7 linked regions of the Homo sapiens genome follow. The protein of the gene in region 1 purifies or fractionates together with the protein of each later gene. This does not show direct contact. Each region holds a gene or a part of one and is shown in the gene's direction. Other genes may lie near its edges. The genes, in order: ZNG1A, FDXR, METAP1, TTF2, NEK4, PTPMT1 and PC.

Evidence for each region.
Region 2: the proteins of ZNG1A (region 1) and FDXR purify together in Homo sapiens (affinity purification with mass spectrometry; 3 studies listed by BioGRID and IntAct, with this or other methods). This does not show direct contact.
Region 3: the proteins of ZNG1A (region 1) and METAP1 purify together in Homo sapiens (affinity purification with mass spectrometry; 4 studies listed by BioGRID and IntAct, with this or other methods). This does not show direct contact.
Region 4: the proteins of ZNG1A (region 1) and TTF2 purify together in Homo sapiens (affinity purification with mass spectrometry; 2 studies listed by BioGRID and IntAct, with this or other methods). This does not show direct contact.
Region 5: the proteins of ZNG1A (region 1) and NEK4 purify together in Homo sapiens (affinity purification with mass spectrometry; 3 studies listed by BioGRID and IntAct, with this or other methods). This does not show direct contact.
Region 6: the proteins of ZNG1A (region 1) and PTPMT1 purify together in Homo sapiens (affinity purification with mass spectrometry; 3 studies listed by BioGRID and IntAct, with this or other methods). This does not show direct contact.
Region 7: the proteins of ZNG1A (region 1) and PC purify together in Homo sapiens (affinity purification with mass spectrometry; 3 studies listed by BioGRID and IntAct, with this or other methods). This does not show direct contact.

The regions. Positions count from the first base shown.
Region 1 is NC_000009.12:123,697-127,056, reverse strand, and holds part of ZNG1A (zinc-regulated GTPase metalloprotein activator 1A), read left to right. Parts: intron 1-3,360. UniProt on the Homo sapiens protein: Zinc chaperone that directly transfers zinc cofactor to target metalloproteins, thereby activating them.
Region 2 is NC_000017.11:74,862,995-74,866,494, reverse strand, and holds part of FDXR (NADPH:adrenodoxin oxidoreductase, mitochondrial isoform 1 precursor), read left to right. Parts: coding exon 1-49; intron 50-250; coding exon 251-364; intron 365-674; coding exon 675-776; intron 777-1,545; coding exon of another isoform or gene 1,546-1,563; coding exon 1,564-1,671; intron 1,672-1,930; coding exon 1,931-2,015; intron 2,016-2,147; coding exon 2,148-2,347; intron 2,348-2,427; coding exon 2,428-2,599; intron 2,600-3,248; coding exon 3,249-3,419; intron 3,420-3,500. UniProt on the Homo sapiens protein: Serves as the first electron transfer protein in all the mitochondrial P450 systems including cholesterol side chain cleavage in all steroidogenic tissues, steroid 11-beta hydroxylation in the adrenal cortex, 25-OH-vitamin D3-24 hydroxylation in the kidney, and sterol C-27 hydroxylation in the liver.
Region 3 is NC_000004.12:99,037,221-99,040,720, forward strand, and holds part of METAP1 (methionine aminopeptidase 1), read left to right. Parts: exon of another isoform or gene 1-721; intron 722-2,153; coding exon 2,154-2,245; intron 2,246-3,500. UniProt on the Homo sapiens protein: Cotranslationally removes the N-terminal methionine from nascent proteins. The N-terminal methionine is often cleaved when the second residue in the primary sequence is small and uncharged (Met-Ala-, Cys, Gly, Pro, Ser, Thr, or Val).
Region 4 is NC_000001.11:117,063,326-117,066,825, forward strand, and holds part of TTF2 (transcription termination factor 2), read left to right. Parts: intron 1-3,500. UniProt on the Homo sapiens protein: DsDNA-dependent ATPase which acts as a transcription termination factor by coupling ATP hydrolysis with removal of RNA polymerase II from the DNA template. May contribute to mitotic transcription repression. May also be involved in pre-mRNA splicing.
Region 5 is NC_000003.12:52,768,141-52,772,143, reverse strand, and holds the start of NEK4 (serine/threonine-protein kinase Nek4), read left to right. Parts: upstream 1-1,203; 5' UTR 1,204-1,397; coding exon 1,398-1,490; intron 1,491-3,539; coding exon 3,540-3,806; intron 3,807-4,003. UniProt on the Homo sapiens protein: Protein kinase that seems to act exclusively upon threonine residues. Required for normal entry into proliferative arrest after a limited number of cell divisions, also called replicative senescence.
Region 6 is NC_000011.10:47,568,599-47,571,279, forward strand, and holds part of PTPMT1 (phosphatidylglycerophosphatase and protein-tyrosine phosphatase 1), read left to right. Parts: intron 1-1,101; coding exon 1,102-1,293; intron 1,294-2,681. UniProt on the Homo sapiens protein: Lipid phosphatase which dephosphorylates phosphatidylglycerophosphate (PGP) to phosphatidylglycerol (PG).
Region 7 is NC_000011.10:66,951,884-66,955,383, reverse strand, and holds part of PC (pyruvate carboxylase, mitochondrial precursor), read left to right. Parts: intron 1-947; 5' UTR 948-1,135; intron 1,136-2,915; 5' UTR 2,916-2,954; intron 2,955-3,500. UniProt on the Homo sapiens protein: Pyruvate carboxylase catalyzes a 2-step reaction, involving the ATP-dependent carboxylation of the covalently attached biotin in the first step and the transfer of the carboxyl group to pyruvate in the second.

The DNA.
Region 1 (3,360 bases):
AATTATATCAAGCACTCTGTCAGACCACAGTGGAATAAAACTGGAAATCAACTCCAAAAGGAACCTTCAAAACCATGCCGATACATGGAATAACCTGCTCCTGAATGATCAGTGGGTCAAAGATGAAATCAAGATGGAAATGTAACAATTCCTCAAACTGAACGACAAGAGTGACCCAACCTGTCAGCCTCTGGGACACAGCAGAGGCGGTGCTAAGAGGAAGGTTCACGGCCCTGAGCGCCTCCATCAAAAAGTCGGAAAGAGCACAGACAATCCACGGTCACACCTCAAGGAACTAGAGAAACAAGAACAAACCCAGCAGAAGAAAGGAGATCAGAGCGGAATTAAATGAAATTGAAACAAAACAACAAAAAAAATCCAAAAGATAAATGAAACAAAAAGCTGGTTCTTTGAAAAGATAAATAAAATTGATAGACCGTTAGCAAGATCAGCCAAGAAAAGAGAGAAAATCCAAATAAGCTCAATAAGAAATGAAACGGGAGATATTACAACTGACACCACAGAAATACAAAAGATATTCAAGGCTACCATGAACACCTTTACATGCATAAACTAGAAAACCTAAAATAGATGGAGAAATTCCTGGAAAGATACAACCCTCCTAGCTTAAATCAGGAAGAATTACCCTGAACAGACCAGTAACAAGCAGGGAGATTGAAATGGTAATTAAAAAATTACCAACAAAAAAATGTCCAGGACTAGACGGATTCACAACAGAATTCCACCAGATATTCAAAGAAGACTTGGTACCAGTCTTAAAGACACTATTCCACAAGAGAGAGAAAGAAGGAATCCTCCCTAAATCATTCTATGAAGCCAGTATCACCCTAATACCAAAACCAGGAAAGGACATAACCAAAGAAGAAAACTACAGACCAATATCCTTGAACATAGATGCTAAAATCCTTAAGAAAATTCTAGCTAACTGATTCCAACAACATATCAAAAAGATAATCCACCATGATCAAGGGGTTTCATACCAGGGATGCAGGGATGGTTTAACATACACATGCGCGTAGCCAAAGCAAGACTAAGCAAAAAGAACAAATCTGAAGGCATCACATTACCTGATTTCAAACTTATACTATAAGGCCATAGTCACCAAAACAGCATGGTACGGTTATAAAAATAGTCACATGGACCAATGGAACAGAATAGAGAACCCAGAAATAAATACTTACAGCCAACTGATCTTCAACAAAGCAAACAAAAACATAAAGTGGAAAAAGGATACCCTTTTCAACAAATGGTGCTGGGATAATTGGCTAGCCACATGTAGGAGAATGAAACTGGATCCTCCTCTCTCACTGTATACAAAAATCAACCCAAGATAAATTAAAGACTTAAATCTAAGACCTGAAACTATAAAAATTCTAAAAGATACCATTGGAAAAATCATTCTAGACATTGGCTTAGGCAAGGATTTCATGAACCCAAAAGCAAATGCAATAAAAACAAAGATAAATAGCTGGGACTTAATTAAACTAAAGAACTTTTGCACAGCAAAAGGAACAGTCAGCAGAGTAAACAGACAACCCACAGAGAAGGAGAAAATCTTTCATAATATATACATCTGAAAAAGAACAAATATCCAGAATCTACAATGAACTCCAACAAATCAGCAAGAAAAGCAGTCCCATCAAAAAGTGGGCTAAGGACATGAATAGACAATTCTTAAAAGAAGATATACAAATGGCCAATAAACATATGGAAAAATGCTCAACATCACTAATGATCAGGGAAATGCAAATCAAAACCACAGTGCGATACCACCTTACTTCTGCAAGAATGGCCATAATAAAAAAATCAAAAAAATAGTAGATGTTGGCATGGATGTGGTGAACACGGAACACTTCTACACTGCTGGTGGGAATGTAAACTAGTACAACCACTATGGAAAACTGTGGAGATTCCTTAAAGAACTAAAAGTAGAACTACCATTTGGTCCAGCAATCCCACTACTAGGTATCCACCCAGAGGAAAAGAAGTCATTATACGAAAAAGATACGTGCACACGCATGTTTATAGCAGCACAATTGGCAATTGCAAAAACGTGGAACCAACCCAAAGGCCCATCAATCAATGCGTGGATAAAGTAACTGTGATATATATGCATACAATGGAATACTCCTCAGCCATAAAAAGGAGTGAATTAATGGCATTCGCAGTGACCTGGATAAGATTGGAGACTATTATTCTAAGTGAAAGAACTCAGGAATGGAAAACCAAACATCGCTATGTTCTCACTCATAAGTGGGAGCTAAGCTATGAGGATGCAAAGGCATAAGAATGACACAATGAACTTTGGGGACTCAGGGAGAAAGGGTGGGAAGGGGATGAGGAATAAAAGACAAAAATTGGGTGCAGTGTATACTGCTCAGGTGATGGGTGTACCAAAATCTCACAAATCACCACTAAAGAAGTTAACCAACACCACCTGTTCCCCAGTAACCTATGGAAAGAAAGAAATGTCTCATATGTTTCTGCCTAAATTGGTCTTTAATACTTTAGCGATTCTCTTGAGTTTGGATTATAAAATAGTTTTGGTCTTTTTGTATTTTCTGCTGTAAGCCTGTATGATTATGTAATGGTGAGTAAAATTGCTAGGCCAGATATGCAGTTCTAGGAAGTTATGCAAAGATGTGCTTTAGTATATTATTTTCTACCTTTTTAAATTCATTTTGAGCTTGGCTTTTGAGCCTCTATTTTCCAAGGTGGGGTGTATGTTTTTATAATGTTATGCTTAGCCCTTGTGTATTTTCATCTCTGAGTTTGAAATTTGGGGTTATATTGGCAAAGGGAGGTTTGGGTTTTAATTAGGTGACCTGTTAGAGGAAATGTTAAGCTTCTGTTTCTTTAGGGTAGACAGTGAGAGATTTATCAAGATAAAGAAGAAAAATAAATCCTAAAGTTAATATTCAATACATGATGATGTCCCCCTTACTAAAGCCAAAGAGGGCATTATCCTATCATTCTCATCGCTAAGAACTCTTCTCCTCTTGGCACATGCTTATTCAGTTAAAGATAAGCCAAGCCTTTCTTTTGTATTTTTTTTTAAGAGAACAGATTTACTTTGGTTTTGAGTTTTATTCCTGGCTCTGGGTAGCTTATTTTTTTGACCCTTATTTTCCCCAATTTATAAAATGAAATAGTTATCTTCACTCCCCAGGATTGTTGTGAAGAGTAAGTCAAAAGATAAAATGAGGTGACTCAGGCAAAAGTACCTGGCCCTGTGTAGTGAGTACATTGTATGTGTTACATATATTCTTATTGCTGAGAATCCACGAAAGAATGAATTAAATAATGAGGACCCCTTCATCAGGGTTTTTGAGTGAGTTT
Region 2 (3,500 bases), on another chromosome or scaffold:
GGACGTGACGGTGCCGGAGCTGCAGGAGGCCTACCACGCTGTGGTGCTGGTGAGTGCAGCTAGGCCCTGGCTTGGGGAGGCAGGGGCTGCAGAAGGAGGCCGGTGGCTCGGGGTGGAAGGCAGCAGGGGTGAGGCCAGGATGCAAGCTGCTGAGAAGCTGGAAGGAGGCCGCTGGGAGCCTGGGGGGCTGCCCGGCCTATCAGTGCTGGTGCTGAAGGCTGTGGGTCTCGGGCCTGCCATCTTTCATCAGAGCTACGGGGCAGAGGACCATCGGGCCCTGGAAATTCCTGGTGAGGAGCTGCCAGGTGTGTGCTCCGCCCGGGCCTTCGTGGGCTGGTACAACGGGCTTCCTGAGAACCAGGAGGTGAGTATGGGGAGCACGCCCGCTGCCTCTTCCTCCCCGCCCCTCAGCCCTTGGATGCCAGACCTGGGGGAAGAGGGAGCTGCCATCCAGTGGCGAGCTGTGACATTGTGCTGACTGAGGCGGGAGGCCAGCTGTGGAGGGCCTCGGGGGAGAGCTGGGTCCAGGTGGGGGAGGAGGGACCAGAGTTGTGGACTTTCCCGGTGTGGGGAAGCCCCAGGGCACAGTGGGGACCAGGCATGAGGCACCTGCAGACTGAGATGAACTGAGTGGAGCGAGGCTGGGGGACCCTATCAAGACCTTTCCCCTCCAGCTGGAGCCAGACCTGAGCTGTGACACAGCCGTGATTCTGGGGCAGGGGAACGTGGCTCTGGACGTGGCCCGCATCCTACTGACCCCACCTGAGCACCTGGAGGTGAGTGGTAGGTCAGGGCTGGCGGGGTTGGAGGTGGGGTCACCCTGAGGAGAGAGTGCCCTTGTCTGCAGGGTTCAGGCCTTACCTCTCCAAGCTGGGCTCAGTGCCTCTGTTTCCCCGTGGTGCCCAGGCAGAGGCTCTCTGAAGGGCAGTGCCATGAGCTTCCTCTTCTACCATTTTCCCTTCACTTTCTGCACTCCAGCTAAGTGGCGTTTTTCTCTTACTCTTCAGTAAGCCACATCCCCTGCTTGGATCATCCCCACTCACCTCCCACCAGTTAACAGTTAAAGTTCATCTTTGAGATCTTGGCTCGGTTGTCCCTTCCTCCAGGACTTCCCTGAATTGGTCCACTCCCCCATCGTGCCTCCTCCCATAGACCTGTCTACTTCTGTTTCACCGCATATCATCGCCACAGCAATTTTACACACATTGATGAGTATTTGATGAGTATTTCTCTCCCCAGCAGATCACAAGCTCTGAGAGGGCCTGCTCCTTGTCTCTTTTCCTCACCATTGACCACCCCGCCCCTCCAAGCTCTTTGCATGGGGGTGAGCACATGGTAGAGGCCCACTACATACTTGTTGAATGAAAGTGTGGGCCTGGTGTGCTATTAGTTGGAGCCATTTGCAGAGTTGGCAGCAATGCTCCATCTGGCCACCAGGGGGGAGCAGTGGCGCAATTTTGAGCCGCCAGCCTTCTCCAGGCCCACGGTGGGGACATGACCAAATGGAGAGTCCCCTTTCCTCGGTCAGTGTCTGATGACTCCAAGGCCCTCCTTTTGTGCCAGAGAACGGACATCACGAAGGCAGCCCTGGGTGTACTGAGGCAGAGTCGAGTGAAGACAGTGTGGCTAGTGGGCCGGCGTGGACCCCTGCAAGTGGCCTTCACCATTAAGGTGCTGGGGCCAGAGTGGGAGGAGCCAGGGTTCCAGGTGGAGGGGGCCTCTCCTTAAGGGGTTGGGGTGGGGCAGAGCCCCTGGGAGTAGCTGCTGCCTGGGATGGAAGAAGGGGAGCAGTCAGGGCCCCGGGGGCCCTGTGCCTTTGGGGAGGAGGCGGGTGGTGGTCTCTCCTGCCTGGGCTGGACCCTGGGGTGGGCTCAGGTGGACTGTGTTCTGGGCCTGACCTCCTCCCCCATTCCCTGCTCCCACCTTCAAGGAGCTTCGGGAGATGATTCAGTTACCGGGAGCCCGGCCCATTTTGGATCCTGTGGATTTCTTGGGTCTCCAGGACAAGATCAAGGGTGAGGGGCCCTGGCCTGGCCCCCCAACTACTAGGGAGAGGGTGGCCTAGGTCAGAGAGGGATTGGGGAAGGGCATGCAGGGAGAGGGCCGGGGCCCAGGGACAGCCTGGAGACATTCTACGTTGCTGACAGAGGTCCCCCGCCCGAGGAAGCGGCTGACGGAACTGCTGCTTCGAACGGCCACAGAGAAGCCAGGGCCGGCGGAAGCTGCCCGCCAGGCATCGGCCTCCCGTGCCTGGGGCCTCCGCTTTTTCCGAAGCCCCCAGCAGGTGCTGCCCTCACCAGATGGGCGGCGGGCAGCAGGTGTCCGCCTAGCAGTCACTAGACTGGAGGTGAGTCTCATGTTTCCCAAAGACACCCCCTTCCCAGGCCTCTGCCACCCGCCTGGTGTTGCCCACACTCTCCCCAACAGGGTGTCGATGAGGCCACCCGTGCAGTGCCCACGGGAGACATGGAAGACCTCCCTTGTGGGCTGGTGCTCAGCAGCATTGGGTATAAGAGCCGCCCTGTCGACCCAAGCGTGCCCTTTGACTCCAAGCTTGGGGTCATCCCCAATGTGGAGGGCCGGGTTATGGATGTGCCAGGTGAGAGGGTGTGAGGAGGCTGGGTGCTGAATTATGGTGAGAGGCCGAGAAGCTGGTATCTCCTGGGGCCATGCGTTCATTCATCTAGCAACATGTACTGAGAAGCTTCTGCAGGGCAGGCCCTCTCTAGGACCCAGTGCCGCCCTCCTCTTGGCCCTGAGAGAAGTTCCAGTCTGGCTAGGACATATGTGACATACGTCGGGTCATTAAGTCATTCAACAAACGTTTACTGAGGTCTTTTCTGGGTTAGGCCCTGTGCTTAGTGCTGGGATTGGAGATTAATAAGGCAGCCTGTGTCCTCAGGGAGCTTCCAGTTTTACTAAGTGCCCACATACCTATCTAGTGATTAATTCACTTGGTAAACATTTACCAAGGGCCTACTGAAACTGCAGGGGAGCAAGCCTCAGCTCCTAAGCTTAGGGATCCCCTCATCTACAGGGAAACTGAGGTGTAAGGGGGTCGGCCTGGTAAAAACAGGGAGAGAAGAATCCAGGGCAGTGGACCAGCGGCCACAGCAGGCTCAGCCGACAGTCTGCCAAGAGGCGTGGGGTGTCTGTGTGCGTGCACGTGGGTGTAGATTGTGGGCACAGGATGGCCAGGGTGGTATCCAGCCACCTCCCTCCCTTCCCCTTTTGTTACCCCCTCTCAGGCCTCTACTGCAGCGGCTGGGTGAAGAGAGGACCTACAGGTGTCATAGCCACAACCATGACTGACAGCTTCCTCACCGGCCAGATGCTGCTGCAGGACCTGAAGGCTGGGTTGCTCCCCTCTGGCCCCAGGCCTGGCTACGCAGCCATCCAGGCCCTGCTCAGCAGCCGAGGTCTGGGCCCCGATGCTGAGGTCCTGGGAGGTGGGGTGGGTGGTCCTTCTCTGGGCCTCACTCTTTGGGAGGGGGCTGTTC
Region 3 (3,500 bases), on another chromosome or scaffold:
CCTTTTGATGTATGTTTTTAAAACTGTTTTTTACCAATTGACCGTTTGTTTTGTCATTACATTTATTACAGATTTTGAGTATCCTAACATAGTAAAATTTATCAGTGTTTTATTTTACAGTGTGTATGGCTCTATGACCTAGAAAGACCTTTTTGGTGCAGAAGTTATAAAAAAATATTCCTATGTTTTCTTCTAGCATTTTTATGGTTTCAGTCTTTTTTATGTATGATAAAAATCATTTGTATATCTGAAACTTACTTGGCATAAGGAGTTAAATAGGGATGCAACTTAATTTTTTTTCTCAGAAGGATACCTGGTTATTATATCACCAGTTATTTAAAAAATCAGCCTTTCCTTATTGATTTGAAGTGCAACCTATATTGTTGTATTATGTTCTCACATGTCTTTAGGTCTATTTCTGGATTCTATTCTGTTTTATTAACCCATTTGTCTAATCATGTACCACTGCCAAACTTTTAATTATCATAGCTATATAATGTTTAATATTTGGTAGGCCTTGTTGCCCCTACCTTTCCTCTTTTTCAGAATTTTCCTGGCTATTCTTGCATGTTTGTTTTTCCATGTGAAATTTAGAATCAGCTTGTCTGGTTCTCAAAATTATCCTGTTGACATTTTTTTATTGGGATAGTATTAAATTTATAGATTAATTTTGGAAGAATTGACATCTTTACAATATTGAGTCTTCCTGTCCAGGAACAGGGTATGTTTTTAAAGTTTTATTTGACTCCTTTTATGTCTTTCAGTGGTGTTTTCAGATTTTCTTCATGTAGGGATTTTATTGTTAAATTTATTCCTGGGTACTTCATCTTTTTAGTTGTTTTTGTACATAATAGCTTCTGTATTTTTTAGCTGATTATTTGTATGTGGGAAAGTTATTGATTTTGATAAATTTATCTTAAACAATATGCCAACTTGCTGAATTTGTATTTATGGTCATTTACCAGGTGATTCTTCTGTTCTAGAGATACATAATCACATCTGAAATTGATAAGAATTTTGTCCTTTCTTTTCTAGTTTTATATGTTTTATTTCTTTCTCTTGTTTAATTGCATCTGCTAGTATTGCCAGGACAGTGTTAAATAATAGTGCCGATAGTGGGCATTCTGTAATGTTGGTTCTCAGTTTGAGATTTATATTTATCATGTCAAGGTGGTAGCTGGCCATGTTATCAGAATTAACTTTCCTTCTAGATGATTATTTACTTTTACTTTATTTATGAATGATGAATTGGATGAATAGATTTGTCAGTATTGAACTATCCTTGCCTTCTGGTATGAATCTCACTTGCATCCTGATGTATTAAGTTTTTTTGGATTCTGTTTGTTAATATTTTTATTTGGAATTTTTCCATTAGTACTTGTAAATAAGATTAGTTGACATTATTTTTGTTAGATTTTGAGTTAATTGCTATCCTGGCTTTATTACTTTTCATGTATGTAAAACTTGAAGCTAACAAATTTTATTAGTGAAGATTTTTAGGGCAATATTTTTAAAACTTTTTTGAGTATGACTCAGAAATGGCTTTTATAACGTGATCTTTGTATGTGTATATAAATAAAGATTTCATGGCAGCACTTATTCCTACTCCGTATAATACGAGTATAATACTTTGTTATGCCATTTTAATATTTTCTGTCCCATTTATTTACTTTTAAAAAATGTTAAGTGTAGCCTAATAAAAGGTCACAAACTGGAGATTGAAAAACACTTAACTTTGGTTCCTGTTTCAGAAAATAGTGTAATTAATTCATCAGTTGTTGATGTATAATTGCTTCATGAGATGATTATGAAAGTAATTTGTAAATTCTGTGGTACTTTTCAAATGTATATCATTTACTGAGTCTGATTATCACACGGCCTGGCATATAATAAGTACTCTATAAGTATTGGCTGATTTCTAATAGGTCTGAAAATTTATCTTTTAGAATTTTTTCTTCAGTTGGTTTAGCGAGTTTCCCTTTGATGTTGAAAATGTTTTTTTTTAAAAATCTAACCTAGACCATCCCAAATCATGAATTACTGTTGTGTGAAACAGTGAGACTACTGTTTTTATGCCACAGGTTTATAATTATGCAAATAAATACTACATCTTTGCATTCATTTTGGTTTTACTTACCGAATTTTCATTCCAGGAATGTCTGAATCTGAACAGGCTCTTAAAGGTACTTCTCAGATTAAATTACTCTCATCTGAAGATATAGAAGGGATGCGACTTGTATGTAGGGTAAGAGTGATTTTTTCTCCATGGGGTAGGAAATGTTTAAGCAGTACTTAGACATGAAGTCAGTGGTTTGCTGATTTATAAAGATAGCAAATGTTATATTGTTAGACTGACCAGCCATGCTTTTTTTTTTTTTTTAACTTTTTTTTGAGACAGAGTTTCACTCTGTCGCCCAGGCTGGAGTGCAGTGGCGTGATCTCTGCTCACTGCAACCTCCACCTTCTGTTTTCAAGCGATTCTTCTGCCTCAGCCTCCTGAGTAGCTGGGATTACAGGTGCCCACCACCACACCTGGCTAATTTTTGTATTTTTAGTAGAGATGGGGTTTCACCATGTTGCCCAGGCTGGTCTCGAACTCCTGACCTCGTGATCTGCCCACCTTGGCCTCCCAAAATGCTGGGATTACAGGCGTGAGCCACCACACCTGGCCTTTTTTTGTATTTTTAGTAGATACAGGGTTTCACCATGTTGGCCAGGCTGGTCTCTAACTCCTGACGTAAGGTGATCTGCCCGCCTCGGCCTCCCACAGTGCTGGGATTACAGGCGTGAGCCATTGTGCCCGGTTTAGCCATGCTTTTCATTAAACTATTGTTAGTATATAATTTTAGTCAACAGTTTTCTTCTTAAAAGCCTATTTCAGAATTAATCTGGTGGATAGTCTATATTTAGATGACAATCCTTTTCATTTATTTAATGATATTTAAAAACATTTTGTCATTTTATTTTCACAAGTCATCATAACATAGGACAGAGTTTAAGGCTCAGAGGGTTATGCTGTAGGCCTTTTTGTGAAATACCTATGATGAGTGGTAGTAGTGGTTGGTACTCATTAGGTGAAATCACATATTTATTCTGAAGGAAAATATAATACATTGATATTATTCATTTAAGTAAGATTCTTAAGGTTTCTATTCAGTGCTTTAAAAGTGATTTGATTCTAATTTTGTTTGATATCCTGGAGAACTTTCTCTTCCTATGACTTGCTGTGATTCTTTGAGGAATTCATTCATCTATTTTTTTTTTTTTGAGACAGGGTCTTGCTATCACTCAGGCTAGAGTACAGTGGCACAATCATAGATCATATAGATCATAGCTCATAGCTTACTGTAACTCCAAACTCCTGGGCTCAAGCTATCCTTCCACCTCAGCCTCCTGAGTAGCTGGGATCACAGGCATGTGCCACTACACCTGACTACTTTTTTTTTTTTTTTTTTTAAGAGACAGGATCTCACTATGTTGCCCAGGCTCATCTGTTCTTT
Region 4 (3,500 bases), on another chromosome or scaffold:
TCATAAAACCAAGATCCGAGTCAAAATATTACCCCAATAAGTGCCATCAGTCCCCTTCAAGTTAATTTCACCCCTCCCATCTCCACCCCTGTCAGCAATCACTGTTCTGATTTTTATCTCTTTAGATGTGTTTTGATTGTTCTTGAACGTTATATAAATGAAATCCTACTGCATGTACTCTTCTGTGTCTGACTTCTTTTACTTAACAGTATGTGAAATGTATATAATATGTATCAGTAATTCATTCATTTTTATTGTGGAGTTGAATTTCATTTATAAATGCACCACTTTGTTTGGTGTGCCTATTTGCCATCAGAAAATCTCGACGTTATCTGTTTAAATATTTTATCCTTTTTTTTGCATTGAAATTTTTATCAAGTAGTTTTAGATTCACATACAGTTGTAAGGAATAATACAGAGTTATCCCCTGTAGACTTTATCCAGTTTCCCCCAATGGTAACGTTTGCAAGGCTTAGAAATATATCACAAACAGGATATTAATATTGGTACAACCCACCAGTTTTATTGGTAAAGGTAGTTTTACTTGAACTAATTTATGTGTGTGTGTATATTCTATACAATTTTATCCTGTCGAGTCATGTATCTACCACTACAGTCAAGGTACTGAAGAGTTCCATCACAGGATCTCTCTGTTGCCCTTTCTATAACCATACCCCCTTCCCTCCCTTCTGCCCTCTTCACTCCGGCAATCAGGAATTTGCTTTTCATTTCTAAAATTTTGTCATTGCACAATTGTTACATAAGTGGAATCATAAAGTATAACTTTGGAGATCTTTGCCTGTTTTAAAATTTTTGTCTTTTTTTAAAACTGAGTTGGTAGAGTTCTTTGTAAATTCTCTATACAAGTTAGGCCAGGCATGGTGGCTCATGCCTGTAATCCCAGCACTTTGGGAGGCTGAAGTGGGCAGATCACTTGAGATTAGGAGTTTGAGACCAGCCTGGCCAACCAACATGGTGAAACCCCATCTCTACTAAATAAAAAAAAGTGAAAAAACAAAAAAAAATTAGCTGGGCCTGGTGGCACACTCCTGAAGTCTCAGCTACTCGGGAGGCTCATCATTTTTGTATGGTTTGTGCTTTTTGTCTGATCTCCAAGAAATCTTTGCCTACCCCAATATCACAAATATTTCCAAGAATTGTCTAGAAGCTTTATAGTTTTATTTTTGTTTGTTTGTTTGTTTGTTTTTGAGAGAGAGAGTTTCACTCTGTCTTCCAGGCTGGAGTGCCGTGGTACAATCTTGGCTCACTGCAACCACCATCTCCTGGGTTCAAGCAATTCTTATGCCTCAGCCTCCCAAGTAGTCCCAAGTAGCTGGGACTACAGGTGTGCACCAATAATTTTTTTGTATTTTAGTAGAAACGGAGTTTCACCATGTTGCCCAGGCTGGTCCCGAACTCCTGAGCTCAGGCAATCTACACATCTTGGCCTCCCAAGGTGCTAGGATTACAGGTGTGAGCTACTGCACCTGGCCTGTTTTTTTTTTTTCTTCTTCTTTTTTTTTTTAGTAGCTTTTTCATATAGGTCTATTATCTATATCTTAAATTACTTTTGTGTAGTATATCAGGTAGGGTAGAGGTTCATTTATTTTTGCATATGTTACCAATTGTTTTAGCATCATGTTTTGAAGATTTTCCTTTTCCCATTGAAATGCTTGGCGTCTTTGTAAAAATTCAATTGATCCAATATATGTAAGTCTATTTCTGGGGTTGCTAATCTGTTCCATTGATCCATTTGCCTATCTTTACATAATTAATCAGATAAAATAGTGTGAGTCTTCTGACTTTATTCTTTTTCAAGATTGCGTTGGCTGCTCTAGGATCTTTGCATTTCCATATAAAATGTAGAATCAGCTTTTAAAAATTTCCACAGAAAACCCTGTTGGGATTGCATTGAATCTATATAGATCAATTTGGAGAGAATTGTCAATATTGAGGCTTCCAATCCATGAATGTAGTGCATTTATTTATGACTTTAAAAATGTCAGCTGGGCGCGGCAATCCTAGCACTTTGGGAGGCCAAGGCGGGCGGATCACGAGGTCAGGAGATCGAGACCATCATGGCTAACAAGGTGAAACCCCATCTCTACTAAAAATACTAAAAATTAGCCGGGCATGGTGGAAGGCGCCTGTAGTCCCAGCTACTCAGGAGGCTGAGGCAGGAGAATGGCGTGAACCCGGAGGCAGAGCTTACAGTGAGCCGGGATCGCGCCACCGCACTCCAGCTTGGGTGACAGAGCGAGACTCTGTCTCAAAAAAAAAATGTCTCTGAGCATTGTTTAATACTTTTCATTACAGAGTTCCTATGCATCTTTTGTTAAATTTATTTCTCAGTGTTTGTGTTTTTTAGTGCTGTTGTAAATGGAATTTTTTTTAATTTTGTTTTTGGATTGTTTTCTGCTGGTATAGTAGGGCTGGTAAGCCTTTATTGCATGAAGTTATATTCTACTGATACTTAAAACCATTTACATACTACTGGAGGACCTTTACCATACAGACATACTGTGGTAGTTGTTAGGAAGCCACTGAAGGATTTTTGACCCAATTTGCATTAAAAGAAGAACTATGGAGGACAGATTAGAAAGTGAAAATAGGGCAAAGAGACCACTGAAATAATAGCTACCATTGAAAGCCCACTATATACCTTTTTTTTTTTTTTTTTTTTTTTTTTTTTGTAGAGACACGGTCTCACTGTATTACCCAGCCTGGTCTCAATCTCCTGGGCTCAAGCAATCCTCCTACCTCAGCCTCCCAAAGTACTGGGATTACAGGTGTGGGCCACTGCACCCAGCCTGTTCATTATCTTTTACCTTCATATAATTTGTTGTGATAGATTTCAATATCCGTGTTTACCAGAAAGATGGAGAAACTACCATTGAAACAGGTCAGAAAGGGAATCTGAGGACCCATGGTTATGAAGTGGCATTGCTGGGATTTAAACCCAGGTCCAACTGATTCCAGACACACCAACTTTCTCTTAAGTGAGAGGTGATGGGCCTGAATTGAAGTAGCAGCAGTGGAATTGGGTCCAAGTAGAATGAAAACTTGCTGAAAGAGCACTGATGAGATGTATTTCCTGGTAGGGCATATAAACGTGTTCCTTCCTCCATTTTTTCATCTGGAATATTGCTCACATGGCCCTAACTTCCCTGGGTTGGAGGACTTGGAGAGAGAACGTGTGTGATGGCCTCGGTCTGGTGTTTGGCACATTGTCAGTGCTCAGTAGGGAAACGGTTGCTAAGGTGGGGCTTCTGGGTAATGTGTTTACGTTAAGCAGGACAAGGAAGAAAGGTAATGTTGGTCGAGTATTGGGATGTGTGGCAAACACATACAGCTTTGGACTAATCATGTCTTTTTTTTTTTTTTTTTTTTTTTAAAAGACAGAGTCTTGCTCTGTCAACCAGGCTGGAGTACAGTGGCACAATCTCAGCTCACTGCGACCTCTGCCTCCCAGGTTCAGGTGATTCTCGTGTCTCAGCCTC
Region 5 (4,003 bases), on another chromosome or scaffold:
GAATTAGCATATGATCCAGCAATTTCACTTCTGAGTGTATACCCAAATGAATTAAAAAGAAAGCAGGGACTCAAACAGATATTCGTACACCCATGTTCATAGCCGAATTATTCACAATAGCCAAAAGATGGAAGCTATCCGTGTCCATGACTGCATGAATGGATAAACAAATTGTGGTGTATACATATAATGGAATATTATTTGGCCATAAAAAGGAAAGAGGCCAGGCACGATGGCGCACACCTGTAATAACGGCATTTTGGGAGGCCAACGTGGGTGAATTGCTTGAGCCGAGGAGTTCAAGACCGGTCTGGGGAACATAGTGACACCCTGTCTCTGAAAAAAAATAAAATAGGATTAGCCAGGCATGGACGTGTGTGCCTGTAGTTGGGAGGATGGCTTGAGCCCAGGAAGTCTAGGCAGCAGTGAGCACCATTGCACCACTGCACTCCAAGCTGGGTGGCAGGGCGAGACCCTGTCTCAAAAAAAAAAAAAAAAAAAAAAAAGGAAAAAAAGGAAGCGCTCTGGGAAAGGGAGGCTTTGGCTGGAACAAATGGTGAATTCTTTTGGCACCCCTGAGCTTTCTTGGGCAGGCATTTTAAAGGGGCCTAGGCCCACCTAGAGATCCGCCCTTAGGCTGTTAACTTAGCATGATGCCATGTTAGAGTTTAGTCAAGTCTCTTAGTGCAGTGGTTAGGGTAGTCGTTAAATGCTGAGGAGTCTTTGTAGTTCTCAATTAGCAGGCGAGTTTTTAGGGATGAAAGGTACTGATAATTTACTTTGAATGTATCAAAAAATAGGATGGATTGCTGGATGCAGAGACGGCATGTGATAAAGCGGATACAGCAAATGTTACTGGTAGAGAGTCTGTCACCCAGTCATTAGAACATGAGCTCCAGGAGGGCAGGGACTTTGTTGGCCTGGCACATAGGCGGTCAACAAATATTTGCAGAATGAACGAACAATACTTGTAACGGCCTTAGGACAAACAAGTGCACAAAAAGAGGAAGCTTTCCCTGACTCTGTTGTGGCGGGGATCCGGACGGTGGAACGGACGCACAGAAAGTGCGCGGAGCCTGGCGGAGTCGCTCTGGCCTCCTGGAGCCTCTGCTCTATGGCGGGTCCTCCCGGGGCTGCGGAACCTCTCTGGCCGCTCGTGGCGTCCGCTCTATGGCCGTCCTTTGGGGACGCAGGAGCATGCGCAGAACTGCTCCCGGCCCGGATCGCTATGGCAGCGGCGTCGTCGCGGGCCGGGCCCCAGCAATCCCGCCCGGGCCCGGCTGCCTCAACAGCCGCCCCCACTGCCCCCTCTCGGGCATGAACCGAGCTTCTTGTTGCCGCCCGCTGCCCTACCCGCCGCTGCCGCCGCATCCCGACTCTGGGCCAGCGCTGGGAACATGCCCCTGGCCGCCTACTGCTACCTGCGGGTCGTGGGCAAGGGGAGCTATGGAGAGGTGACGCTTGTGAAGCACCGGCGGGACGGCAAGCAGGTCTGCAGGGGTGGGGCCCGGCAAGGGGCGGGGGCGGGCAGAAGTGCGCCGAGGGCGCCGACCGGTAGATTAGGTCGGGGGTGGTCGCAAGAGGCTCATCTCGGATGGCGTTTCCTCAGGGAAATGGTCCCAGACCAAGACGAGGCCTGGCCTCCCTGTAATATGCGCCCAGAACTACTTCTACTTCTTTGTTGTGTTAAATTTTTTTCCTTTTAATTTTCATTTTCTTTAATTACAATTCTAAGTTTTATGTAAAAATTTTCAGTCTCTGCCTATCTACTTCTTTGTTGTACTAATTGGCATGCGTGATCTACACACCTTTCTCCCAACCCCGATACTCTCATGAGAGCCGGTATCATGCATTCCCAGGACTTAATACAGCGCCTAGCAAGCATTATTCCTTGAATGAAGGGCCCCAAACGTCTCTACTGTAGACTGCTGGATTCACTTAAAACTCGACTCATTTTCTTCCCGCCAAACCTTCTCTCATGTCTTCCGTTTCAGTGAATAGTGACACCAACCCACCAGTTGCCCAAGCCGGACACCTGGAGTCATTTTTAAGCCTCCCCACGCACCCCAACACTGATTATATTCATCTATCACTAAGACAATAGGCCTCCTCTCATCTCTACTGCTACCACCCCAATCCAGGACACCCTGTTGTCTCTAGCAAAGCTATGGCCACGGTTTCCCAACTGGTCGCCGCCACTTGACTTGCTTTTCTCCAATCCATCACTTTCACTGCAGCCTCAGTGATCTTTCTCAAATTTAAATCTGATGTTGTCACTCCTCTGTTTAAAACACTTTATCCCATTACTCTCAGGATAATGAACCAATTATTCAATGTGGTTTATTAATAGGGTGACAATATAATGTACAAACTGGGACAATTTTGAAACTGAAAGGCATTATTAATAGTTACACCAGGACAGTAGGACTGCTCCAGGCAAGCTGAGAAGAGATGTTCCCCCTAAATATAGGGCCCAATTGCCTGTTCTTCCTTGTCTCTGGTGCTAGTTGCTTTGCGTGGAACACAAGCTCATGCATAAGAAATTTATTCAGTAGGCATTGGGGGAATCATTGGATTTTGGGGCTGATGATAGGGAACTAGCAATAGCTAGTTATTTGAGCTTTAGTTTACACTTCACAAAACACATTTATCTATGTGTTGAAGAAATGAATTGTATGGTCTTTGAAATGATTGAGGGCAATGTATTAGGTATTAGAGGCTATTGATTTCTTTTAAGTGTGAATAATTTTGTATGCTGAAGATCAGTGACTATTAAACTTATGGGGCCATGGATCCCTTTGAGTATCTAACGTAATCCACAGACTATTCTGTCTGCAAATGTATAGTCAAGCTATATTTTATTCACCTTTTTGGGAGAGCTTAGATATTAAGGAATTTCTTTTTTTATTTTTTATTTTTTTTGAGACAGAGTCTTGCTCTGCCTCCCAGGCTGGAGTGCAGTGGTGCGATGTTGGCTCACTGCTGCAACTACTGCCTCCCAGGTTCAAGCAATTCTCCTGTGTCAGCCTCCCGAGTTGCTGGGACTATGGGTACACACCACCACGCCGGGCTAATTTTTGTATTTTTAGTAGAGACAGGTTTCACCATGTTGACCAGGCTGGTCTTGAACTCCTGACCTCAGGTGATCCACCCGCCTCACCCTCCCAAAGTGCTGGGATTACAGGTGTGAGCCACTGTGTATGGCCAGATATTAAGGAATTGCTAACACAGGTTTTATAATTGATCCAATGGTATGTTATCTTGAACTCACTTTTTTTAGTCATTAATGAAATTGTGAAATGCAGATGGGAAAGGTAATTTTTGTGGCCCTACACTGCTATAAATCTAACTTATAAGAAGTATCAATAATAGCAAATATTTTCCCCGATTTTGTGCTTGGTGAAAAACAAAATGAATAGGTTATCTGACAGGCTCCACAAGGTTGGTTTTGAGGGTATTCTTGAGAGCCCTTAGATAACTCTGAGGCCACAAATCTTACGTTTATTTGCACATTGTAAAAATACATGGTTTGTTTTTAGTATGTCATCAAAAAACTGAACCTCCGAAATGCCTCTAGCCGAGAGCGGCGAGCTGCTGAACAGGAAGCCCAGCTCTTGTCTCAGTTGAAGCATCCCAACATTGTCACCTACAAGGAGTCATGGGAAGGAGGAGATGGTCTGCTCTACATTGTCATGGGCTTCTGTGAAGGAGGTGATTTGTACCGAAAGCTCAAGGAGCAGAAAGGGCAGCTTCTGCCTGAGAATCAGGTGGTAGAGTGGTTTGTACAGATCGCCATGGCTTTGCAGGTACTGTGTAGACTAATAGCATCCTAGCTTGTTCCCAGATGGCAAGAAGATGGCAGGTGTATTTTAGGAAAATTTTTCTTCAGATACTTACATATAGAAATGTATTTTTTGGAAAATTCATTTGTGAAGTTGACCCAGTCACTCTTTCTGTAGCATTGGAACTTTTCTAAGTAAGTGATACCTATATTAAAATAGAC
Region 6 (2,681 bases), on another chromosome or scaffold:
TTGAGCTTAGGAGTTTGAGGCTGCAAGGAGCCATGATTGCATACCACTGCTCTCTGACCTGGGTGACATAGCAAGATCGTGTCTCTAAAATAAAATATATATATATTTTTGAGATGTTGTTTTGCTCTTGTCTCCCAGGCTGGAGTACAATGGTGCGATCTCTGCTCACTGCAACCTCTCCCTCCAGGGTTAAACAATTCTCCTGCCTCAGCCTCCCTAGTAGCTGGGATCACAGGCATCCACCACCACGCATGGCTAATTTTTGTATTTTTAGTAGAGACAGGGTTTCCCCATGTTAGCCAGGCTGGTCTCAAACTCCTGACCTTAGGTGATCTGCCCGCCTTGGCCTTGCAAACTGTTGGGATTACAGGCGTGAGCCACCATGCCCGGCCAAAATAAAATGTTAAGACGTTTGCAGCTGAATTTTTTGCAGCTAAAATGTATATAGCTAATATCTTGCAGCTAAATATTCAAGTACCCAAAGGGTAGTTTAAGAACACTTTACCTGCTGGTGTGGTGGCTCACACCTGTAATCCCAGCACTTTGGGAGGCTGAGGCAGGCGGATGACCTGAGGTCAGGAGTTCGAGACCAGCCTGGCCAACATGATGAAACCCCGTCTCTACTAAAAATGCAAAAATTAGCCAGGCTTGGTGGCGCGTGCCTGTAGTCCCAGCTACTCGGGAGGCTGAGGCAGGAGAATCGCTTGAAACTGGGAGGTGGAGGTTGTGGTGAGCTGAGATCACGCCACTGTACTACAGCCTGGGCAACAGAGCGAGACTCTGTCTTTAAAAAAAAAAAAAAAAAAAAAAGGAACACTTTAAATCTTGGACATAATTCTAACTCAGCAGCATAGCTGTTGCTTGATGAAAAACCAACCATGTAGGCCAGCCATTTTAAAGACATTTCTGTCCTCACCTGGAATGGGAAAAAAAAGCATTTCTGTAAGAAGTTTCTATTTTAGAAAACAGGCAACAGTGTATTCCCATTGTAGTAAACCCTGAAACTTCCTTGTTGCTTTGCTGCTTCTTGGGAGCCCCTTATCATCCCACCCACATAGTTTTTTTTCATTCTCTTTTTCATACTGGTGGACCTGGTTCCAGGAGTGGAAGAGACTAGGAGTCGAGCAGCTGCGGCTCAGCACAGTAGACATGACTGGGATCCCCACCTTGGACAACCTCCAGAAGGGAGTCCAATTTGCTCTCAAGTACCAGTCGCTGGGCCAGTGTGTTTACGTGCATTGTAAGGCTGGGCGCTCCAGGAGTGCCACTATGGTGGCAGCATACCTGATTCAGGTACCAAAGTTCTTTCTGGGCTGGGCATCGTGGTACACACTTATGATCCCAGCACTTTGGGAGGCTTGAGATGGGAGGATGGCTTGAGCCCAGGAGTTTGAGACCAGCCTGGGCAACATGGCAAAACCGTCTCTACAAAAAATACAACAAGTTAGCTCAGTGTGGTGGTGTGCACCTGTAGTCCCAGCTACTTGGGAGGCTGAGATGGATCACCGGAGCCCAGTAGGTAGAGGCTGCAGTGAGCCGTGATTTGTGCCACTGCACTGCAGCATAGCCAACAGAGTGAAACTGTCTCAAAAAAAAAAAAAAAAAAAAAAAGTCTTTCTGGTCCCATTTATAGCAGATTTCCAGAACTTCAATAGCATGGTCTACTGGTGGGCCTTGTTGGAAGGAGCTGTGTGCTTGATTTCAGGCTGTTGGGAGGTGGTTTGGTATGATGGAAAGCACCTGAGCCTTGTGACAGGGTAACCTGGGGCTCTGCTGCCTGCCAGTGAGGATCAGCAAAAGTGACTTCTGCCTTATGCAACATGTTTTCTCAAACTAAATGTATTATGAAGTTTAAATAAGAAATTACATCAAGTGCTGGCCTATAGCGGGCACTCTAAAAACGGAGTTGCAAAAGCCATTCAACCCCAGCAAAAGGCTAGACACTTGTTCTAATACCATGTCAGGAAACAATATCATAGATAATAGTGCTGATCATTTTCAGCTTTATAGTACTCAAGTTTCTTCAAGTATTCCAGAGTAAAGTTCTGGATATTAGTTTCTGGAAACAGGCTCCAAACTGGATTCTGCCTATTAATGTGTCATAATTGGCAGGTGGGATGCTTTAAAAATATTTAGGAGAAACAAATACCCTGTAGTCCATCATCATTTTGTAACCTAAGTTACAAAATGTCTGGCTCCCACAGAGCATTTTCTAAGTCATGTGAATAGCTAAGTCTGGCCTTGTGTTACTGTGGACTAGTGTGTATATAGTTGAGTAATATTAAAATTTTGGTCATAAGGGCTCTGCTGGAAGCAGGGTCTCAGGAGGGTATTTTGCACCAAGTGAGAATTGAACTAGCAAGTTAGAAATCTGTATTTTCTTGGTTCTGTTGAGTTCTAAACCAATGAGTATCCTTAGGACATGTTAACCCTCCTATTTAAATTATGAGTTACTTGTTTTTCTAGCCATGGTGACAAGTTGCATAAAAACATCTATTGCATACTCGTTCCTAGAAATTCTTGTAACCAAAAGCCCAGCTCGGAGAGGACGTGGAGTAGGCTGAGGCAGTCTTGAACTTAGGATCTCAGCTTCCCATGTGCAACTTCCTTTTTCTAGGATTTGGCAGAGCAAGAATTGGGTAGAAAGACTGACTTTCCACCTGACCTGTTGCATAGTATTG
Region 7 (3,500 bases), on another chromosome or scaffold:
TGTCCTGCTCCTTGCTTTCACCCGGTCTCACTTCCAGTGCCCCAGGCACTGTGATAGGTACCTGTCCTCCCACCACCACTCATGGGGGCTCTGGGACCAGTGGCAGGGCAGGACCTCAGATTCACTACTCTTATCCCAAGCCACAGTTCCCTGTGTCCCTCTTCCCTCTGTCCTCTCAGTACCTAATAGTGCCAGGAACAAGTAGGTGCCTAATGAGTGTTTTGGGTGAATTAGTTGAAAAGGGGTCAAACTGGGAACCAGTGAGGAGAGAAGGGTGCAAGATGGGGAATACGGAAAGGAGTTACTTTTGGAGGTGGCAGGGATGGCCAGCACCAAGGTCAGTATGGCAGTAAATCTGGCAATCCACATTTCTCACTGGCACCTTCTGCATGGGCTGGAGGCCTCGTTCAGGTCAACGTTTTCTGTGTTTTTTTTTTTTTGGAGACGGAGTCTTGTTTTGTTGCCCAGGCTGCAGTACAGTGGCACCATCTTGGCTCACTGCAGCCTCTGCCTCCCGGATTCAAGTGATTCTCCTGCCTCAGCCTCCTGAGTAGCTGGGATTACAGGCACCAACCCTTTGCCTGGCTAATTTTTGTATCTTTAGTAGAGATGGGGTTTCACTATGTTGGGCAGGCTGGTCTCGAACTCCTGACTTCAGGTGATCACCTGCCTTGGCCTCCCAAAGTGCTGGGATTACAGGCGTGAGCCACTGCACCCGGCCTCTGGTCAACATTTTCATTGAGGATGAGCATGGCCTTCTCTTTGGCTGCCTCCCAATATCGTCCTGCCCCCATCTGAATGGGCCCCGTTTCTTGTATCCTGAAAGTTCCTGCTTTGGGGCAGGTTTCTCACCCAGAGGCCTCCTTCACAGCAGCAGGGCATTTTGCCTGCTCACTCTGAAACCTCACCTGGGCCTGACTGACCGTGCCTTCCTCTCTTTCTCTTAGCTGCCTTCTAGTCTCACCTGTGGACACTTTGCCAAAGGAGTCGGGCCTGACGGTGGAAGATGGGAAATGGCCAAAAGAATAAACCATTTCCTCTTACTTACCGAATGAAAAGCTTGCTTCATCTTGGCGTTCAAGACTCTCTAATATGATTCCACCTGTTGGGCTCTTTCTTCCATTTGCCTCCGCAGGTACCCTCTTCTGTGTCAGCCCCCATAGTGAGATTAGTCACTGTTACCCCAAACTCACTTCTCACGGTCCCCCCTCTGCTCTTGTTCTTGTTGACTTTGTTTTCTGCAGGGCCTTGCTTCTTATCTTGTCCTGTCAAAATTAAATTATTCTTCGAGACACAGGACTTTATTAAGGCTTGCCAAATCTATTCAGTTGGACTGGGCTCTCTTTTCATAACGATGATGATAAGTAATGATTTATTGTTATTAATAATAAAAGTCAACTACTGTGTGGTGGTGACGGCCTTGCTAAGCCCCTTACATACACATAATGTGATTATCACAACAATCCTATTACGAAGGTCCTATTAGATCCATCTCTTACAAATGACGGACTCTCATAGGTGAAACTCAGAGAGGTGAAATAACGCCCAGAGTAACACAGCCAGGCAGGCTAGGTGGCTCACTGCTGGAGTCCCTCTCACGTGCCATCCCATTTTTGCTTCTTTTAACCAGCCCCTAACAACTTGCTTTTTGGCACTTTGTGGGCAGGGCCTGAGTGTACATACAGTTCCTTGTGCAAGGCATGTGCTCAATAAATATTTTATTGACTTGAGTGCCCCAGACATTGAATTTCAGCCTTGACGTTATCTGTCAAGGCAGCTGGTTTTCTCTGAACAGGGATTTGAGCTTGCTGGCCTGTTTTTCCATTTTGCTGTTCATTGACTAGTGGCTAGGGTAGGTGTGGCTTTTTCGGAAATAAGCAGTCAATAAAACTCCGAAAAGTGATTACACAATACCAACTGTGGGCTCCCATGGGCATAAACACGAGGTGGGCTCTTACTTATGGCAGAGAGGGGTCTCTGCAGGAAAGGATTTGAGGAAATAGCCAGGAAATAGAGTACACATCTCAGGTCACGTAAGACAGCTCCTTATTAGTTTCAAGTTGTGGAGTGAGAGAAGAACCAGACTCCCAGTATTCAGAGGGAGCTCCTGAAGGATTAGAGACAGCTCTGCGGAGATGCAGAGAAAGCGGGCCTGAGGCTGGACGGAGTGGGCAGGAAGAGAAAGCACTTCAGATAAAACGAACTGTTTCTAGAACTTCTTGTTCATGTGTAGTGGGTGGCAGAAAAGGGTTTTACTTAAGCGCTTCCCACCTAGCCTGTCGGTTAACGTCCCAGTGTGTCCTCTGTGCCAGGCATGGTGCCACTGCTGTGCGTGTGCTGCCTCATTGGGTATTCCCTAGTACGCTGTGAGATGGGCATTGTTATTATTCCCATTTTACAGATGAGGAAACAGACTTTGAGTGATTACAGAGCGGCTGTCAGAGTAACAAGAGGTGCAGTCCAGGCAGTGGGACAGCACAGCTGGCGCTTCCAGCTCTGTACCCTCCTGGTGCCCTCAGTGGAAGCAAAGAAACAGTTCTTGGCCGGGTGCGGTGGCTCACACCTGTAATCCCAGCACTTTGGGAGGCCGAGGTGGGTGGATCACCTGAGGTCGGGAGTTCGAGACCAGCCTGACCAACATGGAGAAACCCCCATCTCTACTAAAAATACCAAATTAGCTGGGCGTGGTGGCACATGCCTGTAATCCCAACTACCTCAGGAGGCTGAGGCAGGAGAATCGCTTGAATCCGGGAAGCAGAGGTTGCAGTGAGCCGGGATTGCGCCATTGCACTCCAGCCCGGGTAACAAGACTGAAAAAGTTCTCTGGGTTCTAAAATCGGTGTTCTTGCCACTCCTGTTTTCTCTGGGAAGTTCCTGGAGCAATGAGGGTAATGCTGTTTTTTCTTTTGCTTTAGATAGTGTCTGCCTTCTGGAGAGCTGACCAAACACTAAGGGTAAGTCCTGTGCCTGAATCCAGGCTGGCGGGATGCATGGGGGTCTTCACCAGGAGCAGCTGTGGATGCCAGCAGTTTGGCATGTCAGGTCTTAAGCTCAATCAATAAAAAAAGGCTGCGCTCTGATTTGTGGATAATATCCGTTTAAGCAGTCTTGTCTGTTTCCAGTTGCTCCTGATTTTTACAGGAAAGTGACATCTGGCTCCCTGCTGGCCCCATTTGGCAGCTGGCCAGCCTCAGCAGAAGGCCCTGGTTCTGGAAGGGTATGGTCAGCTTGGGAAGCTGGGCAGGAAGAATCCCTGGGGCTGGGCCGTCTCTGAGAAGACCCCTTGAGTCAGCATGGAGAGCAGGCAGCTGTGGTGTGAGGTGGTTCTGCCAGCTGGTTGTAAAGTCACTTGACACGGGTTTCCAGAGGGTGACGCTCAACCTTTGCCAGTCACGGTAACAACGGGGAAAAAGGGACCTGCCCTTCTTCCCCTGCACATTTTACAGGCATGTGCCACCACACCTGGCTAAGTTTTTTTTTTTCTTTTTTTTTTTTGAGAC